Linked DNA regions of Homo sapiens: region 1 is reported to be linked to region 2. Evidence: microRNA targets listed by miRTarBase, many of them from high-throughput screens and not tested one by one. Region 2 holds a microRNA gene; the other region holds the end of a gene's coding sequence.

The links. Region 2 holds the annotated microRNA hsa-miR-4664-5p (UGGGGUGCCCACUCCGCAAGUU, at 2,174-2,195, shown strand). A microRNA usually pairs through its seed, bases 2 to 8, with sites in the 3' UTR of a target mRNA and lowers its output. Matches are read on the target gene's strand: a 7mer-m8 pairs with bases 2 to 8, a 7mer-A1 pairs with bases 2 to 7 and ends in A, and an 8mer does both.
Region 1: miRTarBase lists PRRC2B as a target of hsa-miR-4664-5p. Seed matches in the 3' UTR shown: 7mer-m8 at 2,588-2,594, 7mer-A1 at 2,771-2,777, 7mer-A1 at 3,313-3,319 and 7mer-A1 at 4,782-4,788.

What each region holds. Positions count from the first base shown.
Region 1 is chr9:131,494,894-131,500,251 of GRCh38, forward strand. PRRC2B (proline rich coiled-coil 2B) reads left to right here. Exons shown (of 32, transcript NM_013318.4): 32 at 847-5,300. The coding sequence ends at 981. It also overlaps the pseudogene LOC124902290. Among named protein-coding and RNA genes, the nearest start is that of POMT1, 5.3 kb to the right of the region's middle. RefSeq lists an enhancer at 5,123-5,358.
Region 2 is chr8:143,729,960-143,735,317 of GRCh38, reverse strand. It overlaps MIR4664 (microRNA 4664), which reads left to right and starts at 2,165; the gene lies at 2,165-2,235. FAM83H (family with sequence similarity 83 member H) reads left to right here and starts at 1,539. Exons shown (of 5, transcript NM_198488.5): 1 at 1,539-1,627; 2 at 4,721-5,182. The coding sequence starts at 4,736. It overlaps IQANK1 (IQ motif and ankyrin repeat containing 1), which reads right to left and starts at 1,179. Exons shown (of 14, transcript NM_001381874.1): 1 at 1,099-1,179. RefSeq lists an enhancer at 2,305-2,599 and a silencer at 2,476-2,686.

The DNA.
Region 1 (5,358 bases), not on the chromosome of region 2:
AAATTAAGTTTTCCCATTTTATAATGAAAAGGACATCGCAGTGTCTTTTCCTGCACGCACTATTCTCTTCTCTATTCTCTAAAACGTGCTGGGGCTCAGAGCTTAAGCCCCTCAGACGTGGGTTTTTAATCAGTCACTGTGCCTGGCTGGTAGAGATGGGAAGTGATTGCTCTCATTGGTTCCCCTAGGGGTCATGAAAGTTGTGTGGAATGAGCTTCTAAAGCTTTCTTCCAGAGTTCAGACCTGGTGGGGGGCAGATGCGCTGGCTGCTCTGTGACTTCCCCACCCCACTCCCCGTGTAGAGCCACAGACCAGGGGAGCCCTGACTAGGAATGGGGCCCCAGGGAAAGGTTACAGAGTGGGAATGGTGGGGGGGTTGGCTGAATCGCGGCCAGAGATCTGTGGGGGCCAAGTCTGCCTAGGGCCCCAGCAGACAGTCGGGGGCTCCGAGACGTGCAGGGGGCACTTGGATCTACTTGAAGGGGCCTTTTTTGCCTGTGGGGCAGGAGGTGCACTGATTTGAAAAGGTTCTTCCAGTTGGCCTTGGGACCAGAACTGCTTCCGCCCTGGGATGTGCCATCGCGGAATTCTTTGTGGAGGACCCGGTGTCTTCCTGCCTCTCCGAATCACTGCACTCAGGGCTTATGGGGAGGGAGCAGAGACGGCACTCGCGCCACTTTCCTTACTAGGAGGGGGGTTTCTAAGTCTGGTCCTTCAACCAAGGGACTGACAACTTAGGGGAGCTTTCCCTGCAACTCAGGAGCAGGAAGGGAGTGGTGGGAACTATGTATCCAAACACGTTTCAGCGTCAGGGTCACTTTGTTTTTCCCATTCATCTGTCCAAAGGCAAAACAACGAGTGGATGAGAAACCCAGCCTGGGAGCCGTGAAGCTGCAGGAGGCCCCCTCGGCTGCCTCCCAGATGAAGCGAACCGGAGCGATCAAGCCTCGGGCTGTCAAAGTGGAGGAGAGTAAGGCCTGACAGTGCCTGGCTGCCACCTCGCCTCTCCCTACTGAGGACGGTGCCGCCATGCGGCCTCGACACAGCCGACACTCGGGAGCCTCACCAGATCCACCGTCCAAATGCGTGGCCCAGACTGAGAGACCTCCCTCCTCTCCACTCCCGAAAGCTCCGTTGTCAACCAGCTTGCACCCGTGGATATATGGCATTGACCCGCTTGCTTTGATACGAAACAAAAAAGCAGACGACTCCTTCATCCCATCTGCTCCTACCGTGACTGTGGAGTGACGCCTCCTGTGCAGTGCAGATTTGCCCTCCCTGCCTCCTCCCTGTCCTGCCGCGCAGCCAGGGCGCCTTCTCAGCAGTGCTTCCGGCCCAGCCGCCCATCCCTAGGCACAGTGATTTGGCAGCAGGGTCATTTTACTTTGAGGCTTTTTGTTTTAAAATGTAGCCAAGGTTTTTACAAAGGGGAAAGGAAAAGAAAACAAAAACGCAAGCTCCATGTGTATAGCTGAACTTTTATATGTTTCTTGCCAGCCCCTCCGCTCCCTTCCATCTCTAGCCTCTGTCCTGTTTAGTTTGATACGTCACTGCAGTACCTTAAGAGGTGACTCTTAAGAATGCATCCCCTCCTGATTCCTCAGCTGGTTCACCCTTGAGGTTATTTGCAAAAAGAAAAGGAGGTTCTTGAGGGCACCGATTGCGAGCATTCTGGTGCCTGGCTCCCCGCCTGGGAAGCGATGGGGTGCTCAGAGCAGCAGGCAGGTTGGGGGAGGGGGGGGGTCATAGTTGGGTTCCAGCTCCTGGCTTGATGAGCCCAGGGCGCTTACAGGCAGCCCATGAAGTTGATGACAGTTTTAGCATGAGAATCACACAGGGTCCCTGTCCTGGGCTCCTCTAAAGCCAGTGGATGTGCTGGGCACCAGAGACAAATCATGGAGATGGCTGCTGGTGGCTCCCAGGTTGGCCCAGATGGGGTGAGCTGACATACCACAGGCCCATCCCAGGCCCCGTGGGCTCTGCTTCTGGGGCTCCATACCCTGCCCTGCAGGGGTGCTGTGTTTTTCACACATTTCTTTCCCTGAAGCCTTCTGTAACCTGTCATTTTCCTTCCTTCCTCTTCCGGAGCCTGCTGCTTTCTCTGGACCTGTCTCCACCTCCCACACAGCTCATCGTGAACACCACTTGGTGATGGAGGGAGTGGACCCGTGTGTGGTCCCCAAGTGAGGCCACTGGGAGTTTGTCCTTTTCCTCCTTTGCTTCACTCCCAGCAGCAGACCCAGGTTGTCAGGACAGGAGGGCCTGAGCTAAGCAGTAGGCATCAGTCTCGTTTGTCTTCAGACGGCGGGGGCAGGTCCAGGGTGAGGCTGGGTGGAGGGCTGACCAAGGTCCAAAGGGCCTGCGCAGCCTCCGGGAGGGCAGCTTCTCCAGCCAGAGGCTTGTGTGAGCCATCGTGTGCTGGGCTTGTTTTTAAGTAAGAAACAAGGAAATCACTCCAGATTCTGTCATTCCAAGGAAAGGGAAGGGGACAGTTCAGGTTTCTCAGCTGTTCTTAGGGGTCACTGAGCGTCTACCTCCTCCTCCAGAGGAGGCTGGCTCAGAACACCTAGAGGAGGGGGCCGGGGATGCACCCCCCACCAGAGGCTGCCTTCAGCGTCTCACGGGTGCAGGACAGCGCTCAGGCTTGGGCTCTAAGCTCTGTGTCTAGTGTAGAACATGGGGAAGGAGCATCTTAGGAACTGCTGAAGTAACTTCTTACTGCTCTCACAATTCTAAGGAAGCGGGAGAACGGCCTCCTACCAACAGCGCCCACCCCAGAGCTGCCTGGGAAAGGGCAGTTTTACTGAAAGGTGCTTTACTGTTCACCTGCATCTTTCAGCAGCTCCCCTCCTGCCCTCACCTGGTCTTTTCCCTCTTTATCCCAAGCCTTTATGCTTGAGTCCCTTCCCCAGGGGCTGCCCACCCGACAGTTCCAGGCATTCCCTACCTGAGCTTCTTGTCTGCTTTTCCTTCTCCCACTGCAAGCGGCTGCTTGTGGGGCCTGGGATGAGCCCTCTCTGTCCCCACCGGCCCTCCTTGCCAAGCCATTCCTGGGTGAGTTCAGGCCTGCGGGAGCCACACATTCATCTCCACCTGGACACTTGAGCCGCATGGCCAGACCCCTCCCACCTGATGCGGTGGTGCGTGTGATTTGTCAAAAGAAAGCCTTCTGGATGCTGTTAAGATGTACCCTTCAGGTGAACCTGGTATCAGACCCACAGTACTTGCTGTTTGAGAAAAAATAAAAACAAAAAGGTCACCTGTTCTCCAGCCCTTTTCTCTTACCTGGTATTTCCTTCCTTTCTCCTCCCCCACCCCAAATAAAAAAACAAAAAACACTAGAATTTATTTATATGTATTGATGTTGTAGGTCTAGGTGAAAAAAAAAGAAGTAAATGTTTCACTGCTCTATTTATATATAATGTCTGAATTAATTCTGTGCAGGAAAGGCCAGGAAATTGCATGTGAAGTTCGGTGCAGTCACCACCTGTGTGTGACCTGAGCTGCAGTCTCTTCGCTGAGATGCAGGTTTTAAATGAGACTTGGGGGGCTGAGGGCAGGCCTCAGGCCTCCCAGCGCCCCAACCCCTCCTTGGTCTAATGAAATGCAGTTCTTAGTGCAGAGATGTTTTAAGGTGCAATATATCTCTTCCTTTCCCGTGGTTTTAGAGCCAAGCTCAAGGTAGTAGGACGTAGGGTCTTATTTTGTTTTCAAACCCCCATCCTCAGAGCGCAGATACATGCAGAGGCTTCTGCCAGGATACCACGGGGCCTTAGTGGGAACAGGTGGAGACCAGCACTTCCCTTTCCTGCTGCTGAGGTAGGGATTGGGGGGTCAGAACCCACTCACTTTTGCCTGTTAAAGTTGCCCTCCTGACGCTGGCAGCTCTGCCTTGGTCACTGGGGATGCGGCTCGTTGCTCAGCCACCAGTGGCCTTGCGGTATTGTCCACCATCCACTAGAGTGGGATGAAGTCCAGAGTGTGGGTATACATCTCAGATGCCCATCTACCCACTGGGGACTTCAATGCCAGCTGCATTTGGTTTGGTTTTCTTAACTGTTGGCTTCTCCCCACAGCGTTTTTTGTTTTTTTTTAAACATTCATATTGTTTTCAAACTTGGAATTCATAGACACTCTGGCTCTAGGTTCCTTAAGGGGGAAAACAAAAGATGACTTTATTTCACATTCAAGAAAATCAGTTCAGTTCCAAAGCTGTGGTCCTTCCAGCCACTTCTAGGGACACTGGGGAACCTTGTTAAACGTTGACATCAGTGCTCTCCAGCCGTGCTGTCACCCTCCTATCTTCTGGATCTGCCTTCGCGATGGTCAGTGACAGCTTCTGGAAGCTGAGCACACACAGGTGCACAGCCATGCTGTGGTCTGGCCTGCTACGGCAGCATGGCAGCTCTGGTGGAGCCTTCTCCCTTGCCATTTGGTTCCCCTGTGCCAAGTAGCTGCAGGCTGCCCCTCAAATCTTCATTTGTCCCTTTTCACTTCCTGCAGAACAAGCCTGGGTTAGAGGGTCTGCTGGAAATGGCCTTTGAAGACCAAGGATACCAGGATGTGTGCACTCTGTCGTGTTCTGTGATGAATGGGAAACGTAGGCTTCCAGAAAGCCAGCTCTCTTCTGAAATGTGACGGACCTAAGCAGGAAGTCATCCAGGACAGGAGTGGCTCAGTGTTGGGGATGGACGCTGTCGCCCAGCCATGCTCCACCAGGGCCACCAATGTGTAGTTGGCTGGTGGTCTTCGGGCATGTGAGACCTGCTCTTCACTGTTTCCACCCCACTTGGTGGCCTCCAGGATGGTAGTGGCACCCTCAGAGCCCCATCTTCAGCATGTTCTGAAGCCTCAGAGTGGAAATTCCTGCTAAGGCTCTGTGTGGACGCCTTTCTCCCGTGATCTAAAGGGGACACTGTACTCAAGCTTTTGACCTCATGCCTTGTGTAGTAAAAAAGGATTTGGGGGTTTTGTTTGGTTCCTGAGAGGGTTGTGTTTTGTTTTTGTTTCCTTTTGTTTATGTTTTGGCCTTTCCTCTTTGTCTTTCCATGTAGACCAGATATTTGAAAGGGCAGACGATGGCTAGAGGTGTAATGTGCAGCTTGTTTATACGGTATTTTGGGAAACTTACCTTGGATGGGAAATCGAATCGTGGATTCACCAGGCCGGTGCTGGCACACTCACCCTCGCCCTTTCCCTCCGGTTCAGTACCTATTGTTTCTCCTTTCAAATATGTGATTGTACTAGCTCTTTCCATATGAAAGAATTCTCCTTATTTAAATAAAAAAAGTTTAAAAAGATAAAGCTGAACGTGCTTTCTCAGGTTGTACATCCCTCGTTTCTTGGTCATTTGACCAG
Region 2 (5,358 bases):
ACACCCCTCTCCCTAGTCCACACAGCTGACCCCCAAGTTCATTTCCCTGGGAGGCTCCTCCTGCCTGCCCCAGCCTGTCCGGGTCCTCCCCGGTGCCCCATGCCCCTCACCCGCTGCAGCACAGTTGCCTGGGCACTGGTCTGACCCCCCACCCATGTTTCCAGCATGCTGGTACCAGTGGGGTGGCACTGAGTGTTTGGGGAAAGAACAAATGAAACTGGGACTGACCCTGAAAACAGAAAATAGGATCACATGGCAAGAGGAACAAAGAGAAAGGCGACTGATGACCATCAGAAAGGGTTGAGGCAGGGCCAGTCCTTGGGGTGGGAGTGGCAGGGGCGAGGGGTGGTGGTTTGGACAGATGATCCAGTGTAGGGCAGGGCCTAAGAGGGGGAGGGGCCCTAAGTGAGGGCCTGAGGGGGACCTGGGGGACTGGAGCACCCAGGGGCAGCTCGGGGTGGTGTGTGGGGGTTGCTGTGTACATGGGGGGGCGTCTGGTATGAGGCTTGGTGTGCACACTGGGTCCCTTGTCCGTTGGGGCTTGGTTTTTGCAGAGTCCCTGTGTGTACACAGGGTTCCGTATGTGAGGGAGGTCCCCTGTGCTCTCAGAGTCAGTGTGAATATGGCATCCCCTGTTTGTGTGTGGGGTTGGTGTCTGAGAAATCTCATATGCAGGTGGGGTTCCCTAGGTGTGCGGATGTCAGCGTGTTCGTGGGTGACTGGCATGGGCAGGACTCGGTGTGCTTGTGGCTTCTGTCTTCCTGAGGAGTCTCCTGTGCTTGGGGGTTGGTGTACATGAGGCACAGGTCATTCGGGGTCCGCATGTGCATGGGGGGGTCACTGCGGCAGAGTCCCCTACAAGTGTGGGCATCGGTGTGAGGGGGTGAGGGAGAAAGATGGGGGACCCCAGGTACTTGTGGGCATCAGTGTGTGTGGTGGGGGTTGGGGTCTGGGGGTCCTCTGTGTGGGCGGGGTCCTCGTCTACGTGTGGGGCGCTGGTGCGGTGGGAGACCGGTGTGTGGTGAGGGGATCCCCTGTGCTCTCGGGGCTCCCAGACCCGGCCCCGCCCGGGGCTCGACGCCGCCCCACCGTCCTCACCTGTCGCACCTGCCTCCCCCAACTCGGCGAGGAGGCCAGAGCTCCGCCCCTGGCGTCGGGCTCGCTCGTTTCCTAGCGACTGAGCCGGAACTTCCGAGTCACCCCGACTTCCGGGGCGAGGGTCAGGGGTCAGGCTGGGAACTTTGAGCCTTGGGTCAACAGTTGGGCTCCCGGGGGTCGGGGTCTTTGAAGTGCGGGCCTCACGGTCTCCGGCGGCGCTGGGCCGGGGTCTCCGGGCGCGCGGCCGCAGGGCACGGGCGGGTCGGGGCGCGGGCCGGGGGCGCGGGCTGGGGCTGGCGGCGGGCGCGGGGCGCAGGAATGCGGGCGCGCCGCGGGTGGGGCTGCCCCGCCCCCAGGTGCTGCCCGGGCAGGCAGGAGGCAGGAGCGACGGGCGGGGCGGGGGCGGGCGCGTGAATCAGGCCGGGCGGGCCGCGGCAGGGAGTGGCTGCCGGACCGACCGGACCGCGAGGCCGCTGGGCGGCGGTCGGCTCCTGCTGCCCCTGTGCCGAGACCCCGCGCACCTGGCCAGGTAGGGCCCCCCTCCCCCGGCCCGAGCGGGGCGGGGCGAGGCGGGGGGCGGGCGCCCCTTGGCGCGGTCCCACTTGGGCTACCCTTGCGCCCACACCTGGGCCGGGGCCGCGCGACCCAGAGAGGGGCGGTGGGAGTGGAGCGCGGCCGCGTGCGCGGGGCCGGGGTGGCGGGGCTGCTCGGACAGGGGGCGCCGCTGTGCGGATATGGACGCGAGCGCCCCCGCACGACGCCGGCCCGAAAAGAGCCGAGGGGGAAGGGGCCCGGGATCCGGGTCGAGCCTGCCCGGCCGTCCCGACTCGCTCCCGCCCTCGCGGCCTAGCTGGAGTCTGGGTGCTGGGCACGGCCTGGACCCTTCCCTGGGGACATCCGCCCGGGCCGCCGTGGACTGGGGTGGCCAGGGTGCGGCCTGGATCCCCGCGTGGCGAGCAGGGCGAGTGATGGGAGTGCTGCCCCTCGCGCCCACGTTCCTGGGCTGGGGTGGGCGGATAGGGCACCCAGCGGCCGCAGCCGCGAGCTCGTAGGGTGCACTGACCCCGTTGGGGGCTGGGGTGCCCACTCCGCAAGTTATCACTGAGCGACTTCCGGTCTGTGAGCCCCGTCCTCCGCACCCCACCTTTCCGCCGCCTAGAGCCTCCGCGCCCTCCTGCGCCCATCGGAACTTGGCACAGGTTCACCCCACTTTGTGTAGGAACTCCAGATCCTTCCATGGGGTCCTCCTTCCAGATACTCAGGAACCCCACTTCCTGCCAGGGTGGAGAGGATGGGGTCCTTGAAGGCCAGCTGAGGGCCCTGACTTCGAGTCAGAGGTCAGGGGTCAGCAAGCAGAAGAGTGGATTCGTGCTGAGTCATTGCCCATGGGTGGGTTCCGCGCCCTCCCTCCCTTGGGCAGACGTTTGGTAGGCAAATGTGTGGGCATGCAGGCCACTGGGGTGCTCCATCTTGGGCTCGGGAGTGGCTGCAGCCCCGTCCATAGCCCAGGAGACACGTACCCATGAAAGGAGACGACGTGAGGAATGAAGCAGTTGGAGGTCTGGGCATCACCCTGTGAGGACGAGGCATGTCTGCTGGGAGGGCTCCTGGCCACGGGGGCTTCCACTGTCTGGATGGTCCCTGCCCCCATTACACACAGCCTGGAGCCTGGACACTGAAATCCAAAGGGACAGTGGGGGTCCTTTCTAGAGTGTCCCCCCAGTGTCGGGAAGTACCCTCAAACAACATCAGCAGGGTTGTTCCCCCTGCCCTGTATGGTCAGACACCGCCCCTACAGACAGGCTGGCAATGGTGAGTGGGCTCCTCGGCCCAGCCAGACAGGCCTACACCTCACCCCCATGTGGTTGGCCTCGATCTGCCCCTGGCACAACCAGAGCGGTGTGCCCTAACCAGCCCCATATGTCAACCATGAGGACGGTGCCCCAACAAAGAAATGTTGGGACAGCTTCTCCCAAGCCGGTTGGCATCTAGGGCTGTTGAGTGGCACCAGGTATTTCCCATGTCTCAACTCCATGTCACCCCCAGGGGCACCAGGCAGGACGGCTGCCTCCTGACCCCAACATTCTCAGCCAAGTGGCTCCGGCTAGCACCCATGTAGTCCAGCTGGCCGGCATCCATCCTGTCAGCGCCCAGGGGCACGCTCCTCTGGGCACCTTCCTAGCCAGGGCCAACATTCAGGAACCTGTGTGCTAGGCGGGGACAGGTGTCCTGCCTCCCTCCCCAACCCGAGGAGCAGTGGGATGGACTGAGCAGTCCCTAGGGCTCTCCTTCCAGGGAGAGGTACCCAGGTAGCTCAGTGACCCTGTGTGCGTGGGCCCTGGGCGCTCCCCATCTGACACCTTTCTGGAGAGGCCAGGCCCCCGCAGGGACCCTTTGGAGAACAGAGTGGGCTGTGGGGCAGCCAAGCATGGATGGTGGTGGCGAGCCCAGGACCTGGAAAGGTCCCTGCTGCCCTGGATGGGGGCTGGTGGGGACAGGACTCTGAGCAAGTGGAGAGCCAGATTTGGGCGATGTGGAGTGCAGGCCCTGCAGGGCCCTGTGGGCACCAAGGGGCTGTGGCCCAGGGAGGTTTTATCTGAGAGGGACAGTGACAAGAAAGAGGTCAAAGGTAGGCCAAGGGAAGGAGGGGGTGCTGGGAGACAGGGACGGAGTCTAGGGATCAGTGTTCCAGGACTGGGCGGTCATAGAATGGGCTGTGGGAGCCCAATTGTGAAACCCTGAGGATGGGGAGGAGGTGTGGCCCGGGACTATGTGTGGGGCTTAAGGTTGCCATTCCAGGAGGAGGGTAGTCACAGCCCTGTTTGCTGCGCTCACCTTGGGCTAGGCGTGGTGTCATGTGGACCCTCAGCTGTGTTGTGCAGTAGAGGTAGGCCAGAGAGGTGCAGTGACCTACCCACAGTCTCCCAGGCAGTCAGAGACGGACACATGGGCAGCATGGGCGGCACCAGCTTGTCCAGTAGGCACAGTGCCAGGGGTCCGTGAATGTCTTAAAATAAGAAAAAAGTGAATATTATAATGATGAATGCAGCCTGGATTGTTTGTCTTTAAGCCAACAGTCATGAAATATTTGGGGGGGGGGGTTCGTTTTATTTTTATTTTTTGTAGTGATGTGGTCTCACTCTGTCACCCAGGCAGGAGTGCAGTGTCACAATCATAATTCACAGCAGCCTCCAACTCCTGGGCTCAAACAATCCTTCTGTCTCAGCTTCCCAAGTGCCTGGGACTATGTGTGCACGCCACCATGCCTGCCTAATGTTTAAAATTTTTTGTAGAGATGGGGTCTTGCTGTGTTGCCCAGGCTGGTTTCAAACTCCTGGCTTCAAGCAGTCCTCCTGCCTCAGCCTCCCAGAGAAAGGAGAGACAGGGCTGGGATACCTGTGCCCCAGCCCTCTGCCAGTGTCCCCTCAGCTAGGGGCATCCTAGGGTCTGGGTTGCTCTCTGTGAGCCTGGTTCGGCTGGTGCCCTGGAAGGCCTCCTGGGCATGGGCTAAACTCCAGCCTACCCAAGTCACTGACGGCCCTTTCCACAGTGTGTCCATGCTCGAGGGTAGGAGTGGTCCCAGTGCCCCCACCCCTAGTCATGTGTCTCCCTGCCCCTCCAGGCCCCTGGCCCCAACATGGCCCGTCGCTCTCAGAGCTCCTCGCAGGGGGACAACCCACTGGCACCCGGGTACCTGCCGCCTCACTACAAAGAGTACTACCGCCTGGCGGTGGATGCACTGGCCGAGGGTGGCTCGGAGGCCTACAGCCGCTTCCTCGCTACCGAGGGGGCACCAGACTTCCTGTGCCCTGAAGAGCTGGAACATGTGAGCCGACACCTTCGGCCTCCGCAGTATGTTACCCGAGAGCCACCTGAAGGCAGCCTTCTCGACGTGGACATGGATGGCTCCTCGGGTACATACTGGCCAGTGAACTCAGACCAGGCCGTGCCTGAGCTTGATTTGGGCTGGCCTCTGACCTTCGGCTTCCAGGGCACCGAGGTGACCACCTTGGTGCAGCCACCGCCCCCCGACAGCCCCAGTATCAAGGATGAGGCCCGCAGGATGATCCGTTCCGCCCAGCAGGTGCGCCATCTTGGGCTTGAGGGTAGTGGGGGAGGGGCCTGGGCTAGAGGCACGGGGGTGGAGGAGATGCATGAGCATGATCAGCTTGAGGGGTGAGCCTGAGCTCCAGCTGGAGTGGGGGTCCCTGGCAAAGATCTTCAGGGCTGCCAGGTCTCGGTCATCAGGGGCTGCAGGCT